Regions from separate parts of the Homo sapiens genome. Here all the other regions are linked to region 4. The links come from fine-mapping of genetic effects on gene expression. A gene starts in region 4. Each other region holds a variant in brackets. All regions are shown on one strand. Distances are between the middles of the regions. Region 1 overlaps GANAB (glucosidase II alpha subunit). Region 2 overlaps PLAAT2 (phospholipase A and acyltransferase 2). Region 3 has its middle 50 kb from the start of SCGB1A1. Region 4 holds the start of CSKMT (citrate synthase lysine methyltransferase).

The links. PIP is the estimated chance that this variant, and not a neighbour inherited with it, causes the effect.
Region 1: its variant is the best candidate, but not a certain one, in a credible set for the expression of CSKMT in whole blood (TOPMed, PIP 0.76).
Region 2: its variant is the best candidate, but not a certain one, in a credible set for the expression of CSKMT in gastroesophageal junction (GTEx, PIP 0.89).
Region 3: its variant is the best candidate, but not a certain one, in a credible set for the expression of CSKMT in lung (GTEx, PIP 0.72).

Annotation. Positions count from the first base shown.
Region 1 is chr11:62,631,649-62,636,648 of GRCh38, reverse strand. GANAB (glucosidase II alpha subunit) reads left to right here. Exons shown (of 24, transcript NM_198334.3): 5 at 1,649-1,828; 6 at 3,135-3,204; 7 at 3,378-3,465; 8 at 3,548-3,644; 9 at 3,904-4,084. Among named protein-coding and RNA genes, the nearest start is that of B3GAT3, 12 kb to the right of the region's middle. The variant T/C (reference allele first, on the strand shown) is at 2,405.
Region 2 is chr11:63,552,575-63,557,768 of GRCh38, reverse strand. PLAAT2 (phospholipase A and acyltransferase 2) reads left to right here. Exons shown (of 4, transcript NM_017878.2): 4 at 4,704-4,999. The coding sequence ends at 4,805. Among named protein-coding and RNA genes, the nearest start is that of PLAAT2, 8.2 kb to the left of the region's middle. RefSeq lists an enhancer at 3,675-3,794. The variant A/G (reference allele first, on the strand shown) is at 2,999.
Region 3 is chr11:62,466,838-62,472,031 of GRCh38, reverse strand. It overlaps a transcript of AHNAK not described here. Among named protein-coding and RNA genes, the nearest start is that of SCGB1A1, 50 kb to the right of the region's middle. The variant CAAAA/A (reference allele first, on the strand shown) is at 2,569.
Region 4 is chr11:62,662,266-62,667,438 of GRCh38, reverse strand. CSKMT (citrate synthase lysine methyltransferase) reads right to left here and starts at 2,127. Exons shown (of 3, transcript NM_001043229.2): 1 at 2,107-2,127; 2 at 1,493-1,792; 3 at 1-1,043. The coding sequence starts at 1,559. The coding sequence ends at 388. LBHD1 (LBH domain containing 1) reads left to right here. Exons shown (of 7, transcript NM_024099.5): 5 at 2,466-2,590; 6 at 4,106-4,203; 7 at 4,280-4,622. The coding sequence ends at 4,310. C11orf98 (chromosome 11 open reading frame 98) reads left to right here and starts at 2,229. Exons shown (of 4, transcript NM_001286086.2): 1 at 2,229-2,308; 2 at 2,466-2,590; 3 at 4,106-4,203; 4 at 4,280-4,622. The coding sequence starts at 2,270. The coding sequence ends at 4,389. It overlaps SNORA57 (small nucleolar RNA, H/ACA box 57), which reads right to left and starts at 2,017; the gene lies at 1,869-2,017. RefSeq lists enhancers at 780-879, 900-949, 1,000-1,109, 1,780-2,009.

The DNA of each region.
Region 1 (5,000 bases), 31 kb after region 4:
GAGACAGGGTTTCACTATGTTGACCAGGCTGGTCTCAAACTCCTGACCTCATGATCCACCTGCCTCGGCCTCCGAAAGTGCTGAGATTACAGGAATGAGCCACCATGCCTGGCCAAAAATATATTTTTTAATTTTCTTCTAACACTTTTGCTTTCATTTATTTACTTATTTTGAGATCGGGTTATGAGACTGGCTAATTTTTGTATTTTTGGTAGAGATGGGTTTTTGCCATGTTGCCCAGTCTGGTCTTGAACACCAGGGCTCAAGCGATCCACCTGCCTCGGCCTCCCAAAGTGCTGGGATTACAATAGTGGGCCACCGAGCCCATCCTAAAGCTTTTACTTTTAAATTTTAAGCAGGCTGGGTGTGATGGCTCATACCTGTAATCCCAGCACTTCGAGAGGCCAAGGCGGACAGATCACTTGAGGTCAGGAGTACAAGACCAGCCTGGTCAACATGGTGAAACCCCGTCTCTACTGAAAATACAAAACTTAGCCGGGCGTGGTGGTGGGCGCCTGTAATTCCAGCTACTCGGGTGCCTGATGCACAAGAATCACTTGAAACTGGGAGGCAGAGGTTGCAATGAGCCGAGATTGTGCCACTGCACTCCAGTCTGGGTGATAGAGTGAGACTATCTTAAGAAAAAAAAATTTTTTAAGTCATAATCTTTCTGCAGTTGATACTTGTATCTGGTATTAGATAGAAATATGATATCAAGGGGTTGGGCGTGGTAGCTCATGCCTGTAATCCCAGCACTTTGGGAGGCCGAGGCAAGTGGATCACTTGAGGTCAGGAGTTTGAGATTAGCCTGGCCAACATGGCGAAAAATCATATCTCCTAAAAATACAAAAAAAAATTAGCCGGGTGTGGTGGCACCTGCCTGTAATATCAGTTACTAGGGAGGCTGAGTCAGGAGAATCACTTGAACCTGGAAGGTGGAGGTTGCAGTGAGCCAAGGTTGTGCCACTGTGCTCCAGCCTGGGCAACAGAGCGAGACTCCATCTCAAAAAAAAAAAAAAGAAGTACATCATTTTTCTTCATATTTGGAAAATCATTTTTTTTCCTATATGGAAAATGTTTTTTCAGTTCCATTTTTGAATAGTTCTCCTTTCCTCTCTCATCTGCTATGCCACCTCTTAGTATTTAGTACATTTAAAAAAGTAATAAGTGGCCAGGCACAGTGGCTCACGCCTGTAATCCCAGCACTTTGCGAGGCCGAGGTGGGTGGATCACCTGAGGTCAGGAGTTTGAGACCAGCCTCAACATGAAGAAACCCCATCTCTACTAAAAATACAAAATTAGCCAGGTGTGGTGGTGCATGCCTGTAATCCCAGCTATTTGGAGGCTGAGGCAGGAGAATTGCTTGAACCTGGGAGACGGAGGTTGCGGTGAGCCGAGATTGCGCCATTGCACTCCAGCCTGGGCAACAAGAGTGAAACTCCGTCTCAAAAAAAAAAAAGAAAAAAGTAATAAATATGCTTGGGTCTGTTTCTGGGCCCTTTGGTTCTGTTTATTAACTTGTCTATCCCTGCTCTGTTACCACACTGCCTATTTCTCTTAACAGGTAGATTTCCCCCGGTCTTCTAAAGTGTCATTACTCCTCTTGGCCCTTTGTACTTCCTTATATTTCTTTTGATATGTTTCCCAGGCTTTCTGTCTCTGGTCGTGATGAGAACAGTGTGGAGTTAACCATGGCTGAGGGACCCTACAAGATCATCTTGACAGCACGGCCATTCCGCCTTGACCTACTAGAGGACCGAAGTCTTTTGCTTAGTGTCAATGCCCGAGGACTCTTGGAGTTTGAGCATCAGAGGGCCCCTAGGGTCTCGTGAGTACAGGGGTTGGGACTGCAGGGAACCTAGTGTGAAAGAGCATAGGGGTGTTGTGAGGTCTGGCACGGGGAGGAGACGGTGGTGGGACAGCCAGGTAGGGCCTGGGGGCTGGGAGAAGCTCTCTGTCAGGGAGGGTAGGAACCAGACCCGGGTGCGGTTTTTTCCATTTCCTGTACAGACCAGGAGGCAGTCACTTTTGTCCCTGAGCTGTACCCTGGGCATCTCTGGGAGGCCTGCCTGGGTCTGTGTCTCCTTCTTCCCCTTCTCACATCATCACATTTCCCAGATTTATTTTCTTCGTTTTTATTTATTTATTTTTTTTGGTTTCTTTTTCCCCCCATCTCTGGAAGTTTGTCGACTGAAACTCACTTTTATGTTTCTGTTTTTGTGTTGGTTTTGTGCCTCTTTTTCCCCTTCCCTACCCATCTCCTCCTGCCCCAGTTTCTCGGATAAGGTTAATCTCACGCTTGGTAGCATATGGGATAAGATCAAGAACCTTTTCTCTAGGTAAATCCATGGCCACCGGTACTGTATCTGTTCCTCTGCCCTTACCCATTCCTCACTCTAGCCTT[T/C]GGGGGGAGGTGCCCCAGACCCTTCCAGCCTTTCACTCACCCCACTTTCCCCTGCTGTGTGATGTCTGGTCCTGTTACCTGTTACCCTGGCTGGGAGCCCCCAGAAGAAGGAAGGTGAGATACTGAAAGTCAGGTCCTTCGGGAATGTAGGGAGCTTATTGCTTTGCCAGGGGATGGAGAGATGCTGCCTATTGCTGGGGTTCCTGACTCTCAGCTGAGGGGCACCTGAGGTTCTGGGCAGAGCTACTTGCCCTTGAAAGCATTTTTTGGCAGAATCTCTTGAAGTCCCTATGTATGTCTGTAGAGGCTTGGTATAGTATGACCCACATGCCTTTGCAAAGCCATTGTGTCAGGCCAGGAGGCTGAGGCCCAGGGAGAGCACTTGGGGCCAGAATCTCTCAGTAGAGGCAACAGAGCCAGGATTGGCATTCATAACCCAGGCCCCTGAATCATTCTGCCTTTCTCTTCTGGGATGTTGACAGAGGCTGGTGTTCAGGCCTGTGCCTCCTGGTGGCACTTATTCCTCATTTTCCTTTCTCATTTCTCTCCCCATCCTTTGCAAACTTATCTGCTCATTGTGGGTTCCCTCTCCAAGCTTTAACATTTAGTCCCTTCCTCCAATGCCTTCGTTCCTTTGGACCCTTGGCTCTCTATTCCCCAACCCCTCCTTCCACTAGCCCCTCGTCCCTGCCCCCTCTGGATTGGAGCAGACAGCTCTCCTACCTTCCAGGCAAGGATCAAAAGACCCAGCTGAGGGCGATGGGGCCCAGCCTGAGGAAACACCCAGGGATGGCGACAAGGCAAGTTGGAGCGGGTGGGTGGTTGGAGGATAGGGCTGGCTGGGAGGGTGGAGGGGAGAGGCCCATGAGAAACTTGAACTTAGTCTCCCCATCAGGGATGGGATTTAGTTGATGGGAGCGGGGAAAGAGAGAACTGGTATGATTGGAGAGTGGTCCTCTTTTCTTCTTAACAGCCAGAGGAGACTCAGGGGAAGGCAGAGAAAGATGAGCCAGGAGCCTGGGAGGAGACATTCAAAACTCACTCTGACAGCAAGCCGTATGGTGAGGGGCTCGGGTTCCTTGGGCTGGGGTGCAGGGCTCCTTTCCAAGCAGAAGCTCTGAAGCTTGTTTGTTTTTCTTCCAGGCCCCATGTCTGTGGGTTTGGACTTCTCTCTGCCAGGCATGGAGCATGTCTATGGGATCCCTGAGCATGCAGACAACCTGAGGCTGAAGGTCACTGAGTGAGTCCTATGGTGACATCAGGAAGATGGAGGTGGGCAGGAAGGAGTCAGGCCTTTAGGGAGATGGGTGTGCATATTGGATACTCTAGGCAAGCATGGGTCATTTCTTGTGTCCAGAATCACCTTTGGTGATAGAAAATTTTTTGAGAAAGGACAAGAGGAGCCTTTGCTTATCTCTCACCTGTGTCTGTGGAGTGGTGTTAGCATATAACGCAGCCTGGGGCCAGTTAGCAGCCCAAGTCTGTCTGTTTGCCTGCAGGGGTGGGGAGCCATATCGCCTCTACAATTTGGATGTGTTCCAGTATGAGCTGTACAACCCAATGGCCTTGTATGGGTCTGTGCCTGTGCTCCTGGCACACAACCCTCATCGCGACTTGGGCATCTTCTGGCTCAATGCTGCAGAGACCTGGGTTGATATATCTTCCAACACTGCCGGGAAGGTGAGAGCACAGGCACGGGGAAAAAGGAGGGAGTGAAGCTTCCAGGCCTTGAGGCAAATAGGTATACTAGGGGCATTAGCTATTTGGGGACTGGGTTTAAGAAGGGGCTGTGGGCCTGGTGGGCAGCATTTGAGTTCCCTAATCACTCCCAGGTGACACGCTCACTCACATTCTTAGGGAAGGCATTGCCTATTCTGGGCTGACGGAATGCACTTATTATCAGTGTGTTACGTGCTAGGTACTCTTCTGGGTGCTGGGGATATAGTGTTAACTGAGGTTGAAAAGGTTCTGGGCTGGGTGTGGTGGCTCATGCCTGTAATCCCAGCACTTTGGGAGGCTGAGGTGGGCGGATCACCTGAGGTCAGAAGTTGGAGACCAGCCTGGCCAACATGGCGAAACCTCATCTCTACTAGAAAAACAAAAATTAGCAGGGTGTGGCGGCGGACTCCTGTAATCCCAGCTATTCGGGAGGCTAAGGCAGGTTAATTGCATGAATCTGGTTGGTGGAGGTTGCAGTGAGCGGAGATTTCACCACTGCACTCCAGCCTGGGTGACAGAGTGAGACTCTGTTTCAGAAAAAAAAAAAAGAAAGGTTCTGACTCACAGGGAGGAAGACACGTTAAACACATAACAAAGGAGGCAAGATGGGGCCGGGCATGATAGCTCATGTCTGTAATCCCAGCACTTGGGGAGGCTGAGGCAAGAGGATCGCTTGAGGCCAGGAGTTCGAGACCAGCCTGGGCAACATGGCGAGACCCCATCTCTATAAAAACGTTTGAAAAATAAAAATAATAAGCAAGATGATGCCGGGTGCAGTGGCTCCCACCTCTAATCCCAGCACTTTGGGAGGGCGAGGTGGACAGATCACAAGGTCAAGAGATCGAGACCATCCTGGCCAACATTGTGAAACCCTGTT
Region 2 (5,194 bases), 890 kb before region 4:
GGCCAGATAGTAAATGTCTTCGATTTTATGGGCCAGGTGTTCTCTGTCTTATTACCCTGCTGCCGTAGTTTGCAGCACAAAAGCAGCCACAGACAATATATAAATGAACAGGCGAGACTGTCTTCCAATAAGTGTATTATTTATTTTTTACAAAAATAGTTCACAGGTTGGATTTGACCCATGGGCCATAGTTGGCCAACTTTTGGATACAGGGTCTCACAAACTTTTTTTTTTTTGATACAGAGTCTCACTCTGTCACCCAGACTGCAGTATATCATGTGGAGTTCGATCATGGCTCACTGCAGCCTCGACCTCCTGGGCTCAAGCAATCCTCCCACCTCAGTCTCCTGAGTGGCTGGGACTACAGGAATGTGCCACTATGCCTGGCTAATTTTTGGATTTTTCTGTAGAGATGAGGTTTTGCCATGTTGTCCAGGCTGGTCTTGAACTCCTGGGCTCAAGCAATCCCCTTGACTCGGCCTCCCTTGGGATTACAGGTGTGAGCCACCACACTCAGTCCAAGATAACTTAAAAAACCACATATCCCCTCATACATTCTTAGATGACATCAAACACTTTAAAAAATCATAAATGTAAAAAATTTGTAAAGGAAAGGATGGATTTTGGTATATTGCATATTACATATTTGTGTACATGTTTTCTTCACAATCTTGGAGTTGCACATTTAGCTCATTCAGTTAGGGAAAAATGTCTTCCGTGTAGTTTAAATAGCCGAGCCAGGTGTTATTGTCAAACCAATCAGCCTAATCAGGCTTATTTTGACGTTCAGAAAAAAACTGACAATTTTTCAATTCAAATGAGTGTGTTAATGCACAGTTTCATGATAACCATCTCACTTTAGAATTCTCATTCTAAAGCAGCAGACAGATGAGGCAGGAGCCTCGACGTGGTTGCATATTCCTTTCTGAAGCCCTCTTTGTTTAGGAGCAATGCATTCTTGAATCCTCCCTTACTGGTGACTAGGAGTGTTTACACCTTAGCCTGTGCACCGTAGATTCAGGGTGTGGGAGGATTTAGCTGTTCTGTTGTATGATAGGAGAAGGAGAGGTGATAAAAAGGGGAGATGGGTAAGGAAAATCCACAACTTCTGGAAACAAGTACCCCAGGAGGGAGACCACGCTATTAACTGAGAGACTGCCAGGCCATGCTGGGCACTGGGGCACGGTGGGACATGCTCTGGTACTCAGTGGGAACCCTGCTGACAGGGTCTCCCCTCTGTTGAGCTGAGGAGGGTAGACCTATCTCTGAATGGGAGGGGTGTCGGAAGGGGATTGGGGGTGGGCTGCCTTATCATACATCTAAAAGCTCTTCTATAGGCTGTGCAGAAGCCACAAAATCAATCTGGAAGACCCCAATTTTAGGAAGTGGTTGGCCCTCTGCTATGCTTCTGAGGGGTCAGAACTCAAGCCAATGGGGAAGACTCAGGGGAGGCAGTTTTATTTAGTTTGTCCCTTGTCCTGGAGCCTCTCTTGTTGAACTTCATCTCCTGCAGGTCACCCAATAACTTGCCTTTCTTTCTTCCTCTCCCTCCTTCCTTCTCATCTGACTCTGTCTGTCTGGAAAGACTCTCCTCTGTCTGTCTCTAGCTCTTGCTCTGTAAGAAAGTGGACTTGTGAAAGCTGCAGGACTCTTGGCACACAACAACGCCATCCAGCCCCTGCTCTAATAGATGACCAAGCTCTAGCACTGCTTCTGGCAAAATAAGGCTGTGTCCGTAGGATGACCCTAGCCCCCCGATAAATGCCTGCCTAAGAAAGCTCTCTGCTGCCAGGAGAATTTACCATTTGTTCTAACGAACACCTGACAAAGACCCTGACCCTTTCTTAGACTGTTTATTACAAAGGACTTATAATTATGAATCCTTCCTCTGTCCCTTTGAAACATAGATACAGTCATCTCTTGGTATCCATGGGTGGGGAAGGGATTGATTCCAGGACCCCCTGAGGACACCAAAATCCATGGATGCTGAAGTCCCTTGTATAAAATGGTATGATATTTGCATATAACCTGTGCACATCCTCCCATGTACTTATTTTATTTTCGAGACAGCATCTCACTCTGTCACCCAGGCTGGAGTGCAGAGGTGCTTCACTGAAATGTGATCTCACCTCATTGCAGCCTCAACCTTCCTGGGCTCAGGGGATCCTCCCACCTCAGCCTCCTGAGTAGATGGGACTACAGGCACACGCCACCACACCCGGCTAATTTTTGTATTTCTTTTTTGTAGCAATGGGGTTTCACCATATTGCCCAGACTGGTCTCAATCTTCTGGGCTTAAGTGATCCACCTGCCTTGGCCTCCCAAACTGCTAGGATTACAGGCATGAGCCACTCATAATTACTCATAATACTCAATGCAATGTAAGTAGTTATACTGTATTTTAAAAATGTGTATTATTTTTTATTGTTCTTTAAAAAATTTTTTTTCCAAATGTTTTCAATCCACAATTGATTGGATCCATGGATGTGGAATCCATGGATATGGAGGGCTGACTGTATATCCCTTACAACTCTGAAGTGCCTTCCTCAAGGACCTGAGAGCCAGTCCTTTGAAATATAATCATCAGGAAGGATAGAGCCTCTGTCCCCAATATCCGTGGGAGGTTAGAATCCTAACTTTGATAATTGCCAGCTAGCAGACACAGCTGGCCTCATCGCATATTCAGGGACTAATCCTTTGTAATATTTCACCTCCCTGACTCTATGAGCCCTCGCTCACCCGTCTCCCTACTCCTCCATCTCCCTTTACAATGTCAGTCACCTCTGCACAAATTGGAATGGAGCTCAGCTCTTTCCCTGCTGTCAGTAGAGACTGAATCAAATCTGTTTTTGCTGTCTTAAGTTATGTCTGGCTTTGTTTGTCTTTGACACTTGGAAACAATTCTGAGTGTATTTGAATAAAATGGTTTTTTTTCCCCCTTTCTTTTCCCCAGTCACTCACATGCTTCAAATTCATTGATACTCCACAGAAATCTGCT[A/G]TTTGGTCGCTGGTTTAAATACTTGCTTCCCTGTCTGTGAAGGGCTTAAGTGCCCCTGTTGGGAAGTCAGGCAGATCTGAGCCTTGTCACTTGTCAGCTGTGTGGCTTTGCGTGAGTTCTTTTTTTTTTTTTCTTTTTTTTTTGAGACATAGTCTCACTCTGTCACCAAGGCTGGAGTGCAGTGGCGTGATCTTGGCTCACTGCAACCTCTGCCTCCTGGGTTCAAGCAATTCTCCTGCCTCAGCCTCCCAGGTAGCTGGGATTATAGGCACCCGCCACCATGCCTGGCTAATTTTTTTTAGTGGAGACGGGGGTCTCACCATGTTGGCCAGGCTGGTCTCGAACTCCTGACCTCAAATGATCTGCCCACCTCAGCCTCCCAAAATGCTGGGATTACAGGTGTGAGCCACCGCCCCCCCGGCCTTTGCGTGAGTTCTTTACACTGTCCATCCTCAGTCTTCTCCTCTGGAAAGTAGGAATTAGAATCACTACCTCCTAGAGTTGTCAGGCAGATTAAAAAAAATACTGGGCCTGGAGAGTTCCCAGCACAGTGCTGATATCTAGAAAGCAGCCATTCTCACAGTTTTCACCCCCACCCCCCACCCCGTGTTGTTTCCCCCAGTCGCTCCAGTGCTAGTCTCTCAGAGACAGTGGCCCAGGCAGGGCAGACCCACAGGATCGCAGCAGACTGTCTCGGCTAGCTCCCAAAAGCTGTGCCGAGCACACCAACCCTCGGGGGTCGGCCTCACATCTCTGTGGTTTTTTCAGTTTCTTCTTCCTTTTGCAGAACCATTTCCTGCCAGCACATAAGTGAGACAATCTTACTCATTAAAGCACACCCTCAATGCTCCTCATGGGCCAGCATTTGTTCAGCAGATGAATTATGAGTGCCGACTCTGTGCCTGGCAGTGGGATCAGCACCTGGGACATTGAGACCAATCCAGGCGAGCTCCCTGCCCTCAAGCCTGTGTAGTGAGAGTTCCCAGGGGTGATTTCCCAACTTCATATCTGCCTCAAGGGCCCCAGTCAGCCAGCCCTGACCTAGAACATTGGGGCACTGCCCCTCTGTCCTTGCTGGGGGTTTACTATGCTTTTTGCTTTAATTATTATTGTTATTTTTTAAGACAGGGACTCACTTTGTCACCCAAGCTGGAATGCAGTGGTGCAATCTTGGCTCACTGCAACCTCCGCCTCCTGGGCTCAAGTCATCTTCCTGCCTCAGCCTCCTGAGTAGCTGGGACTACAGGTGTGCACCACCTGGACTCAGCTGTTTTTTTTTTTTTGTATTTTTTTGTAGAGATGGGGGTCTCACCATGTTGCCTAGGCTGGTCTTGAACTCCTGGGCTCAAGCAATCGGCCCATCTCAGCCTCCCAAGGTGTGAGGATTGCAGGTGTGAACCACTGAGCCCGACCTATTATGCTTTTAATACCCACAGGTGCATCTGGTTTTCCTCCTTTGACTCTGTGTATATCACGCCTATGGCTTCATTCTTCCATTCATTCTGTGCCCACCAGACATCTCCACTCCTCTTTCCTGGGTGGCCTGACCTCTTGGCATCCCCTCTCCCAGCCAATATTTGTTCCCTCTGTGATTCAAATGAAGAGGACTGGGCCAGATGAGTCTTTCCTGAGCTGTAGTTTCCTGGTGTATGTATCGTGGTCCCGCCCTGATGCTGAGTGTGCTCTCCCTTCTCTTCTGCTGCAGGTCACTGGTGCAGTCACGACAGTAGGTGTGGCAGCAGGCCTGCTGGCTGCCGCAAGCCTTGTGGGGATCCTGCTGGCCAGAAGCAAGCGGGAAAGGCAATAAATCCAAGAAATTGTCCCAACAACCACCAATTCTTACGGAGGAATATTATTTAGCCAGCAGGAGTGGAGTTTGGTTTACTGATTTTACTGTTTTGTGTTCATGAATCTTTATTTTAATGGAGTTAAAAGCACAGGAAAATGTATTTGGAAATGCAGCTTAGTATGAATTCTATTAAAGACACAATTGGGCTCTGCTATGGACTGAATGCTTGTGTTTCTCTCACACTCCAAATTCATATGTTGAACTCTAACCCACCTGTGGGATGGTATTGGAGGTGGGGTCACTGGGAGGTAATTAGGTTGTGAGGGTAGAGCCTCTAGGATGGATTTAGTGTTCTTATATGAAAAGGAAGAGACTAGACCGGGCACAGTGGCTCATGCCTGTAATCC
Region 3 (5,194 bases), 200 kb after region 4:
ATGGGCAGCCTCCTGGCTCCAAGGGGAGATGACCCAGACCCTGGGGCGAGTGGTCGTAGCAGCCCTTAAGTCACCCAGGGATTGGGCAGATGGGCCTTCCTCTATCTCTCCACCCCTCTCCCTGTCCATCTCACCTCTCCCTTTCTTCATTTGTGCTCTTCTTGCTTTTCTCAGATCCCTTTCTCTCTGCCATTCTCTTTCTCCTAACTGCCAGTGTGCGGGGCTGAGGGGTGCCTGTGGGTACCCGCATCCCGGCCAGTCTCCCACACCCAGGCCTCAGGGCATGTCCGGCTTCACCTGCCATGGGCTGCCTGGCCCCCAAGCAGGCCTTTACTGGGCTCTGAACCTCACCTTCCCCATTTGCAACATGTACAGTGATAGTGCAGGTTGAGCATCCCTAATCCAAAAATCCGAAATCCAAAATGTCCCAAAACCCAAACTTTTTTGAGTGCTGACATGATGCCACAAATGGAAAATTCCACACCTGACCTCATGTGACAGGTCACAGTCAAAATTCTGTTTAATGCACAAAATTATTTAAAACATTGTATAAAATTGGTCAGGCATGGTGGCTTATGCCTGTAATCCCAGCACTTTGGGAGGCTGAGGTGGGCGGATCACCTGAGGTCAGGAGTTCAAGACCAGCCTGGCCAACATGGCGAAACTCCGTCTCTACTAAAAATACAAAAATTAGCCTGGCGTGCCTTCTGCCCACTGGATGCCAGTGGAAGCCCCCCCTAGTTGCGACAACCAAAGCCCCCCTAGTAGCCTCAACATCCTGCAACATACAGGACGGCCTCCCACAGCAAAGAATCCTTTGGCCCAAAATGTCAAAGGCGTCACTATTAAGAAACTCTGCTCCAGGGTAGCTTGGACTGTGTTTGCAGTCAGAAAAAGACTCCTCTGAGGTGTGCCACCTCCCCATGGGCCATCATCCCTGCAGCTGGATGCAGGAGGCTGAAGCTCTTGCCTGACAAAAGTTTCTCCCCAAAGCCTTCTTTCGTATTGGTATAAATAAAATCTGACGTTCTTTCAGCTTGCAGGGGTTGACCCCAGGTGGATGAGGCATCTGAGTTGTCCAGCAGGGACGGTCAGGTCTCGGGGGACTGGAACAGGCCCAGCATCTTGTATTATTTAGTTCTTCTATTGAAGTTCAGCAGCTGGGTAAGCACTGGATTATTGTGAACAATGTGGCTGTTTAGAAGTTTTGGTTTTTTTTTTTCCCTGAAAGAAAAAAGAGGTGACAGATGGAGGTTGGTGGGAGATGATGATCTGGTGGAAGTCATCATTGAAATTGATGTTGCCCACCTGGGATGATCACTGTCGGACTCTTTAATCAGCACCCAAGCCCCACTCTGTGGCTGCATTAATGAGCATCTGGATGATGGGTTTTAAACTCAGCTTTTTGTTTTTTGTTTTTTGTTTTTTGAGACAGTCTCTCACTGTCGCCCAGGCTGGAGTGCAGTGGCGCGATCTCGGCTCACTGCAATCTCCGCCTCCCGGGTTCAAGCGATTCTCCTGTCTCAGCCTCCCGAGTAGCTAGGACTATAGGCGTGTGTCACCACGCCCAGCTAATTTTTTTTTTTTTGAGACAGAGTCTTGCTGTCACCCAGGCTGGAGTGCAGTGGTACAATCTTAGCTCACTGCAACCTCCACCTCCCGGGTTCAAGCGATTCTCTTGCCTCAACCTCCTGAGTAGCTGGGATTACAGGCGCATGCCACCATGCCTGGCTAATTTTTGTATTTTTAGTAGAGACAGAGTTTCACCATGTTGGTCAGGCTGGTCTCAAACTCCTGACCTTGTGATCTGCCCACCTCAGCTTCCCAAAGTGCTGGGATTACAGGCGTGAGCCACTGCACCTGGCCACACACGGCTAATTTTTGTATTTTTAGTAGAGATGGGGTTTCACTATGTTGGCCAGGATGGTCTCGATCTCTTGACTTTGTGATCCGCCCACCTTGGCCTCCCAAAGTGCTGGGATTACGGGCGTGAGCACTGCACGTGGCCAACTTTTGTGGTTTTGATAGCTAGGGGCCAGAGCTCTAGTTATGAGAGTTATTCTCTAAACCCTATGAGGTTTTTCATGTGATTTTTGGTTTATGATTGAGTACACACATTGATGAACTGTGCTTTTTGTTTTTCCTATCTTGTCCACTTTGTGAACTCAATCAGTTTCACAGGTTACTTTCTCTGTTTCTGACACCTCTCCCCCTGGTGGAATTACCTATTGCTATATCTGGTCAAAAGACAAAAATTACACGTAGGCCCCACGTAGTGGCTCACACCTATAATCCCAGCACTTTGGGAGGTTGAGGTGGGCAGATCACGTGAGGCCAGGAGTTCAAGACCAGCCTGGCCAACACAGTGAAACCCCATCTCTACTAAAAATACAAAAAAATTTATCTGGGTGTAGTGGCAAATACCTGTAATTCCAGCTACTAGGGAGGCTGAGGCACGACAATTGCTTGAACCTGGGAGGCGGAGGTTACAGTGAGCTGACATTGCATAACTGCACTCCAGCCTGGGTGATGGAGTGAGACTCTGTCTCGAACAAACAAACAAACAAA[CAAAA/A]ATTACAACATGTTTAGTTAGTTAAAGATCCTAATTGGGGCTGGACGCAGTAGTTCACGCCTGTAATCCCAGCACTTTGGGAGGCTGAGGCAGGTGGATCACTTGAGGACAGGAATTCAAGACCAGCCTGGCCAACATGGTGAAACATCCTCTTTACTAAAAATATAAAAATTAGATGGGTGTGGTGGCATGCACCTGTAGTCCTAGGTACTCTGGAGGCTGAGGCAGTAGGATCTCTTGAATCCAGGAGGCAGAGTTTGCAGTAAGCCAAGACCACACCACTGCACTCCAGCCTGGGCAACAGAACAAGACTCCGACTCAAAAAAAGAAAAAGGAAATCAGGAGATCCCAATTGGGCCGGGCTAAGTGGCTCACACCAAGCTAGGAGGCAGAGGTGGGAGGATCGCTTGAGACCTGCCTGGGCAAAATAGTGAGACCTCGTTCTCCATATACACAAAAAAGAACAAACCAATTGGCTGTTATTTGCAGTTCTAGAATCATGCAGTGTCTTATTCTACAAAATGAAATGAATGTTCCAAGAAGCTGAGCAGAGGAGGTTAACTTTAAAGACAGAAAAGAGCTGAGGAAAGCAGAAACAGAGAACAAAAAGCAGATGGGTCGTCTCAGAGTTACTGTCCTTATAAAGGGTTTAATTTTTTTGTTTGTTTTAAGCTAGAGATGGGGTCTCACTATGTTGCCCAGGCTGGTGTGCAGTGACTCTTCACAGGCACAGTCCCACTACTGATCAGCATGGGAAGTTTGACCTCCTTGTAAAGGCTAAAGCAGAGGACACTTCCTTATCATGCTGGCTGAAACTGGCCTTTTTGAGGATTCGGCTGTTATCCCTCTTTCTCCTGATTTCTCAGAAGGTCAGATGAACAGTTTTGGCTTGGTGGTGTGGAACTTGAGCATGAATAATTCCATTTTGGTTTGATCTGTTGGGCCTAGGGCAGGAGCTCAGTCCAAACCAATGGCCTCCTATAATTTTATTTAGCAACCTGTACACACATGCCCATACATTATGCACCCCAACCCTAGCTCTTACTGTAGTCTGTCTCTGTGAATAAAATCCCCATATATATATATATTTTTTTTTTTTTTCTTTTTTTTGGGAGACAGAGTCTCGCTTTGTCACCCAGGCTGGAGTGCAATGGGGCCATCTCAGCTCACTGCAACCTCCACCTCCCAGGTTCAAGCGATTCTCCTGCCTCAACCTCCCAAGTAGCTAGGACTACAGGCGCGTGCCATCACACCTGGCTAAGTTTTTGTATTTTAGTAGAGACGGAGTCTTGCCATGTTGCCTAGGCAGTCTCAAACTCCTGACCTCAAGTGATAACGCCCATTTCGGCCTCCCAAAGTGCTAGGATTACAGGCATGAGCCACTGTGCCCAGCCAAATCACCATGTAATTAATATAACTAATATCATCATCCCTCAATGGAAGAAGATTCTAGAGGACAGGGACCTTGTGTTGTTTACTCATCTTTGAGCCCTTGACCCCGGCACTGTGTCTGACCTGAGATAAGGCTTCAGGAAGTACTTTGTGAGCTGAACTGAACTTCAAAGAAGTGAATGATATGCAGCCATTTGTCTGAGAAAATGACATTTTGGGCCACTGAATATATACTGAAGAGATGTGTTGCTGAAAGTTTTAGTAGGGTGTTGGGAGTTGCCTGAGAGTGTCCCTCTCTTTTTTCCAAACCAATCACAGCTAAGATGATTTCCTTGGTGTCAAAAGGCTTGACTGTTTCAAGAGGCATTTTGTTGTTGTTGTTTGAGACGGAGTCTCACTCTGTTGCCCAGGCTGGAGGGCAGTGGTGTGATCTTGGCTCACTGCAACCTCCGCCTCCCGGGTTCAAGCAATTCTCCTGCCTCAGTCTCCCGAGTAGCGGGAATTACAGGCGCGCGCTACCATGCCCGGCTAATGTTTGTATTTTCAGTAGAGATGAGATTTCCCCATGTTGACCAGGCTGGTCTCAAACTCCTGACCTCAGGTGATCCGTCTGCCTCGGCCTCCCAAAGTGCTGGGATTACAGGCGTGAGCCACTGCGCCAAGCCTCAAGAGGGATTTTTGGAATGCTAGGCGAGGTAGAGACTACAGACACCAAGAATTTAAGGCATTTATAGGGTATACTTTCTAATGTGATCACTGCAAAAGTTTGAATTGTAGAATTTGTTTTCTTTTAAAGAAGTACAATTATATTACTTTCAAGGATATACTATTTTTCTAAGTTTTTTTTTTTTTTTTTAAGACAGGATCTCACTTTGTCACCCACACTGGAGTGCAGCGTCATGAACATGGTTTACTATAGCCTTTGCCTCTCTGCCTCCTGGGCTCAAGTGATCCTCCCACCTCAGCCCCTCAAGTAGCTGGGACTACAGGCATGCGCCTCCAGGCCTGGCTAAGTTTTGGATATAATTTAAATGTATTGAAATAAGCTGCAAGGAATGATCTAGGCTTTGCATAACCAAGTAAACCAGGTCTTTTAAAAGAGATACTTAGGGATCATAATGAGTATACAAATAATTAACAGGTATGTTGTTTATAAACAGTTTATTATTCTACATAGTTAAAATGCTTCCTTATCTTAGTTATGTTGTTAATTTGCATTGTAGCCTATGT
Region 4 (5,173 bases):
GGTGACAAAAATGAGGCTTACAGGTTAGGCCACTAGATTATACAAGTCAGTCAGCGCAGGGGTTTTGATTCAGTTCCTGTCTGCTGCTTTTAGGAGCTCCAGTTAGTTGAAACTGGGGAATGACCCAATTGTACCTTCTCTTTTCAGCATTCATTTTGTGCTAAATATTGCGCACATCATTGTATGTAATCTCCGTAACTCCAAGTTATTCTCACTCTGCAGATGAGTAAACTGGGGAACAGAAACATTCAGCAATATGGCACCCAGCTAGTAAATGTGGAAGCCAGGACTCAAATTCTCACTTTGCAGCCAGATAGCTTGCAAAGACAGTTCTTCAGCCCTCTCCTTGCCCACAGAAATACTAGGGTCAGGACTACTAAAATGTCTTTAATGAGAGCCTTGAATCAAGTAAGCAAAGTAGGTGATGCCCCTGAACGGGCCTAGCTCCTGCACAGTCACAGTCCAGCCATAGGACCCTTGTTCCAGGCAGGGCAGTCGCACATCAGGGTCCTCATCTGAGAACTGAATCAGGGTCCCCTGAGGGTTTAGAACCCTCAAGCATTCTGATAGAAGCTGGTAAGCCCTAGGCAGACCTCCCCGGGCAACAGCATCCCATGTGCCTTTGTCCAGCAGTAGTTGGAAAGAGCCTGAAGAAGCCACAGCCCCCAGGTTCTGAGCATCGGCGTGCATGAAGTGGAGGCTTGAGGCAGGGTGTCCAGGGCATAGAGGTGTTTGGCCTGGGCCACCCTCCAGGAGGCTATTCATGTGGGCCACAGCCACAGGAGAAAAGTCCACCCCCAGCACATCCACTGGGTGTGGAGATTTGGTGTAGAGGCCTGTACATAGGCTGGAAGTCCCACAGCCCACATCCAGCACTCGCAGAGGACTGGCAGCCTGTGCCTCCTGCAGCAATGGCAGTAGGAGCCCCTGGACTTCGTCGTATCCAAAGAACCAGTCGAAGGTGGGGACAGTGCCCAAACGAGGCTGGGCATGCAGCCGATCCCAGAGACAGCGGTCCGCCAGGCAACTATCAGCCAGTGAGCCTGTGGGCACGGTTGGAGGGTGTCACTTGGTCTATGTCGCCACTGCAAAAACGTCGTATATACACACTGGCGTCTTTTTTTTTTTTGAGACAGGGTCTCACTCTGTGACCCAGGGTTGAGTACAGTAGCACAATGATGGCTCACTGAAGCCTCCACCTCAGCCTCCTGAGTAGCTAGGACTATAGGCGCCATCGTGCCCGGTTAATTTTTTTTGTAGACAGGGTCTCGCTATGTTGCCCTAGGTTGGTCTCGAACTCCTGGGCCAAGCGATCTGCCCGCCTCGGCCTGGCAAAGTGTTAGCATTACAGCCGTGAGCCACCACGCACGGCCCACCGTAGGGTTTGAGAATCACAATTTCAGGGACTACACTCCTGACTCACGAGGAACCCACCTTACCCTCCCCACTCTGCCCCCACCTTGCCCTCTCCACTCTGCCCCCACCTCCCTACCCGCAAAGGGGCGGCACGTCCCCATCATCAGGCTCGGCAAGTGGAGCATTCGACGCAGCGCGGCCATCTGGAGATTCGGGTAAGTTCGACCAGAGAAGCTTATGTGAAGCGTCCACCCTACTCCAGCCGGAGAGGCCTGAGGTCCAGGGGAAGATCTGCAAATTCCGCGTAGCGAAAGGCGGCGTACAGCTTCCCCGAACTCTGCAGTCCCGGAAAAAAGAACGCGGACACAGACTATGGTAGGAACGGCCTTTATTGGCTGCAGCGGGAAGTGGAGGAGGGTATACAGCGTCCGCAGACCTGAAATCAAATGAGAAAGTGTGAGCACCCCGATGGAGGAGCCAGCTGGATCTCGGTTGTCCTTCTCCGAGATTCCCGGTGTCCCGGCGTTTGAGGATAGAACCAGCGGATGGGAAGCCGCCAGCACCGAAGACATGACGCCGAGGGGGCCAGAGCCCTTTCCCTCTTCCTCCGTACATTACGGGGAGCGGCACCACAAGCCCGATCCCCGCCAAGAAAAGGAGGGTCCTGAGACCCCGCCCAGAGCCTTCCACCCGGCACCCCCACCACTCCCGGCCGCCCAATCTGGCTACTACAGCTAAAACCACACTTACTAGCTCACCACCCTCCGAAAGGCCTCCCGCACCGCGGAGCTCCTTTATATAGCCCGAGGACCCGCCCCCGAGTTGCGATTGGCCCGCGGAAGGCCGGGGCGGAGCCCCGCGGATCCGGCGCTGAGCGGAAGTACGGACCGTGAACTGGAGTGGAATCGCGACTATGGGAGCTCCGGGGGGAAAGATCAACCGGCCCCGAACGGTGACTGTGTGGGGGCCGCGACTTTGTTTCCTCAAGCGTTCCTGAGCCCTTTTATCTCGCACGAGATGGGATCAGTGAGGGGCCGGGGCTGCCTGGTGGAGGGGCCCCGGGTCGCGGCGAGCCCACTCCATCTGATTCGCATCTTTCTCCCCGGCAGGAGCTGAAGAAGAAGCTGTTCAAACGCCGGCGGGTGTTGAATCGGGAGCGGCGTCTGAGGCACCGGGTGGTCGGGGCTGTGATAGACCAAGGGCTGATCACGCGGCACCACCTCAAGAAGCGGGCGTAAGTACTAGACCCTCTTCCTGTTGGTCGTCCCCACCGAGTCTTCCTTCCTCCCTGCAGAGCTCCGGAGCAGCTTCACCTCTCAGCTCACCTTGTGCACTGACGCTTATGCGGGGAATGTCTGTCGGCTGTTAGTTCCTAAGCTCTGATAGCCTCTCACAATACCTGTAGCAGACAACCTTTCTTTGGGTTTTGGATTCTGTTAAGAATCTCAGGAAAGCCGGGGATGGTGGCTCATACCTGTAATCCCAGCACTTTGGGGGGCTGAGGTGGGCGGATCACCTGAGGTCGGGAGTTCGAGACCAGCCTGACCAACATGGTGAAACCCCGTTTTTGCTAAAAATACAAAAATTAGCCAGGCGTTGTGGCCGGCACCTGTAGTCCCAGCTACACGGGAGGCTGAGGCAGGAGAATTGCTTGAACCTGGGAGGCGGAGGTTGCAGTGAGCCGAGATCACGCCACTGCACTCCAGCCTGGGCCACAGAGTGAGACTCCGTCTCAAAAAAAAAAAAAAAAAAAAAAGAATATCAGGAAATCTGTTGGCTCTCCATTCTCCAAGTAATGTTATACATTCACACAGATTTTTATAAGTAAACTTATTTTTACATACAGAAAAGTGCACACATAGGCGCATAAAACTCGAAGAATTTTCCCAAAGGCACTCATAGGATTTCACTTGTAAGTTTCAAGGCCTCCTGTGTCTTGAGGAAGAGTTCCCATCCCATTAATTACTTTCTGTGTCCTTTTTTTTTTTTTTTTTTTTTTTCCTCTTTTTTGAGACAGAGTCTCCCTCTGTTGCCCAGGCTGGAGTGAAGTGGCATGATCTCGGCTCACTGCAACCCCTGCCTCCTGGGTTTAAGCTATTCTCTTGCCTCAGCCTCCCGAGTAGCTGGGATTACAGGTGCTCCCCACTGCACCCGGCTAATTTTTGTATTTTTAGTAGAGACGGGGTTTCACCATGTTGGCCAGGCTGGTCTTGAACTCCTGACCTCAGGTGATCCGCCCACCTCAGCCTCCCAAAGTGTTGGGATTACAGGCATAAGCCACCGCCCCCGATCTATGTCCTTTCATTAGCTTCTTCAATGTAAATATTTAGGGTTTCTATTACTATTTATATTATATTTATTTAATACTTTTCCTTTTTTTTTTTTTTTTGAGACGGAGTCTCGCTTTGTCGCCCAGGCTGGAGTGCAGTGGCGCGATCTCGGCTCACTGCAAGCTCCGCCTTCTGGGTTCACGCCATTCTCCTGCCGCAGCCTCCCGAGTAGCTGGGACTACAGGCGCCCGCCACTGCGCCCAGCTAATGTTTTGTATTTTTAGTAGAGACAGGGTTTCACCGTGGTCTCGATCTCCTGACCTCGTGATCCAGCCGCCTCGGCCTCCCAAAGTGCTGGGATTACAGGCGTGAGCCACTGCGCCCAGCCTATTTAATACTTTTTCTATAGCCAGAACTATTTGTGTGACCTCAGTTGGTTCAGGTTAACCTAGCTCTCTTTATTTCCACTTACCCATCAGGTCCAGTGCACGTGCCAACATTACACTGTCAGGGAAGAAGCGCAGAAAACTCCTCCAGCAGATCCGGCTTGCCCAGAAAGAGAAGACAGCCATGGAAGGTGAGGCTGGGACAGAGGTGGGTGAGGGGAATCCTGGATTTATTTGGGATAATACTTCCTTCTTCCCTTTACTCAGTGGAAGCCCCTTCAAAGCCAGCCAGGACTAGTGAACCACAGCTCAAAAGGCAAAAGAAGACAAAAGCCCCCCAGGATGTAGAAATGAAGGACCTTGAAGATGAGAGCTAAACCTCTTCCACTAGAAGATTCTCAACTGGAGCCAGCCTTCAGACTCAGTGGTTGTTTCAGAGGACTTTGACAAAAGCAAGGCCCCTTTTCACTCTCCAGATTTCCTCCTACCTAATGGCCTACTGACCTCCCCTAGAGGGATGTCTTTGGGAGGGAAGAAGGTACAGAAGAAAGATTGGAGAAGGGCCTCTCTAGCAGTCAACTCCATTTGTAATAAAGCCCTAGCACTCTGAGATGTGTGTGATTAAATGTAGGAATGGGGATGGGTCATGAAAAGATTGGGGAGTATGGAAACAAGACAGTGAGGAAGCAGTACCCACAGCTTCCTTGTGCAAATGCAACAAGATGCCAGCCTCTGCCCTCAAGAGTGGTGGTGCCTGGCCGGGTGCAGTGGCTCACGCCTCTAATGCCAGCACTTTGGGAGGCCGAGGCAGGTGGATCACCTGAGGTCACAAGTTCGAGACCAGCCTGGCTAACCCCGTTTCTACTAAAAATACAAAAAATTAGCCGGGCGTGGTGGTGCACGCCTGTAATCCCAGCTACTTGGAGGCTGAGGCAGGAGAATCGCTTGAACCCGGGAGGCGGAGATTGCCTACCGGGGTATTGCTTGAGGCCAGGAACTCAAGGCTGTAGTGTGCTGTGATCTCATCTGTCTCCTTAGTGAGTGATACTCTAACTTTCCATTTATGACAAAGATACAGATTATTCGAGAAGTTGAAGTTACAGTGAGCCAAGATTGTCCCACTGCACTCCAGCCTGGGCAACAGAGTGAGCCATTGTCTCG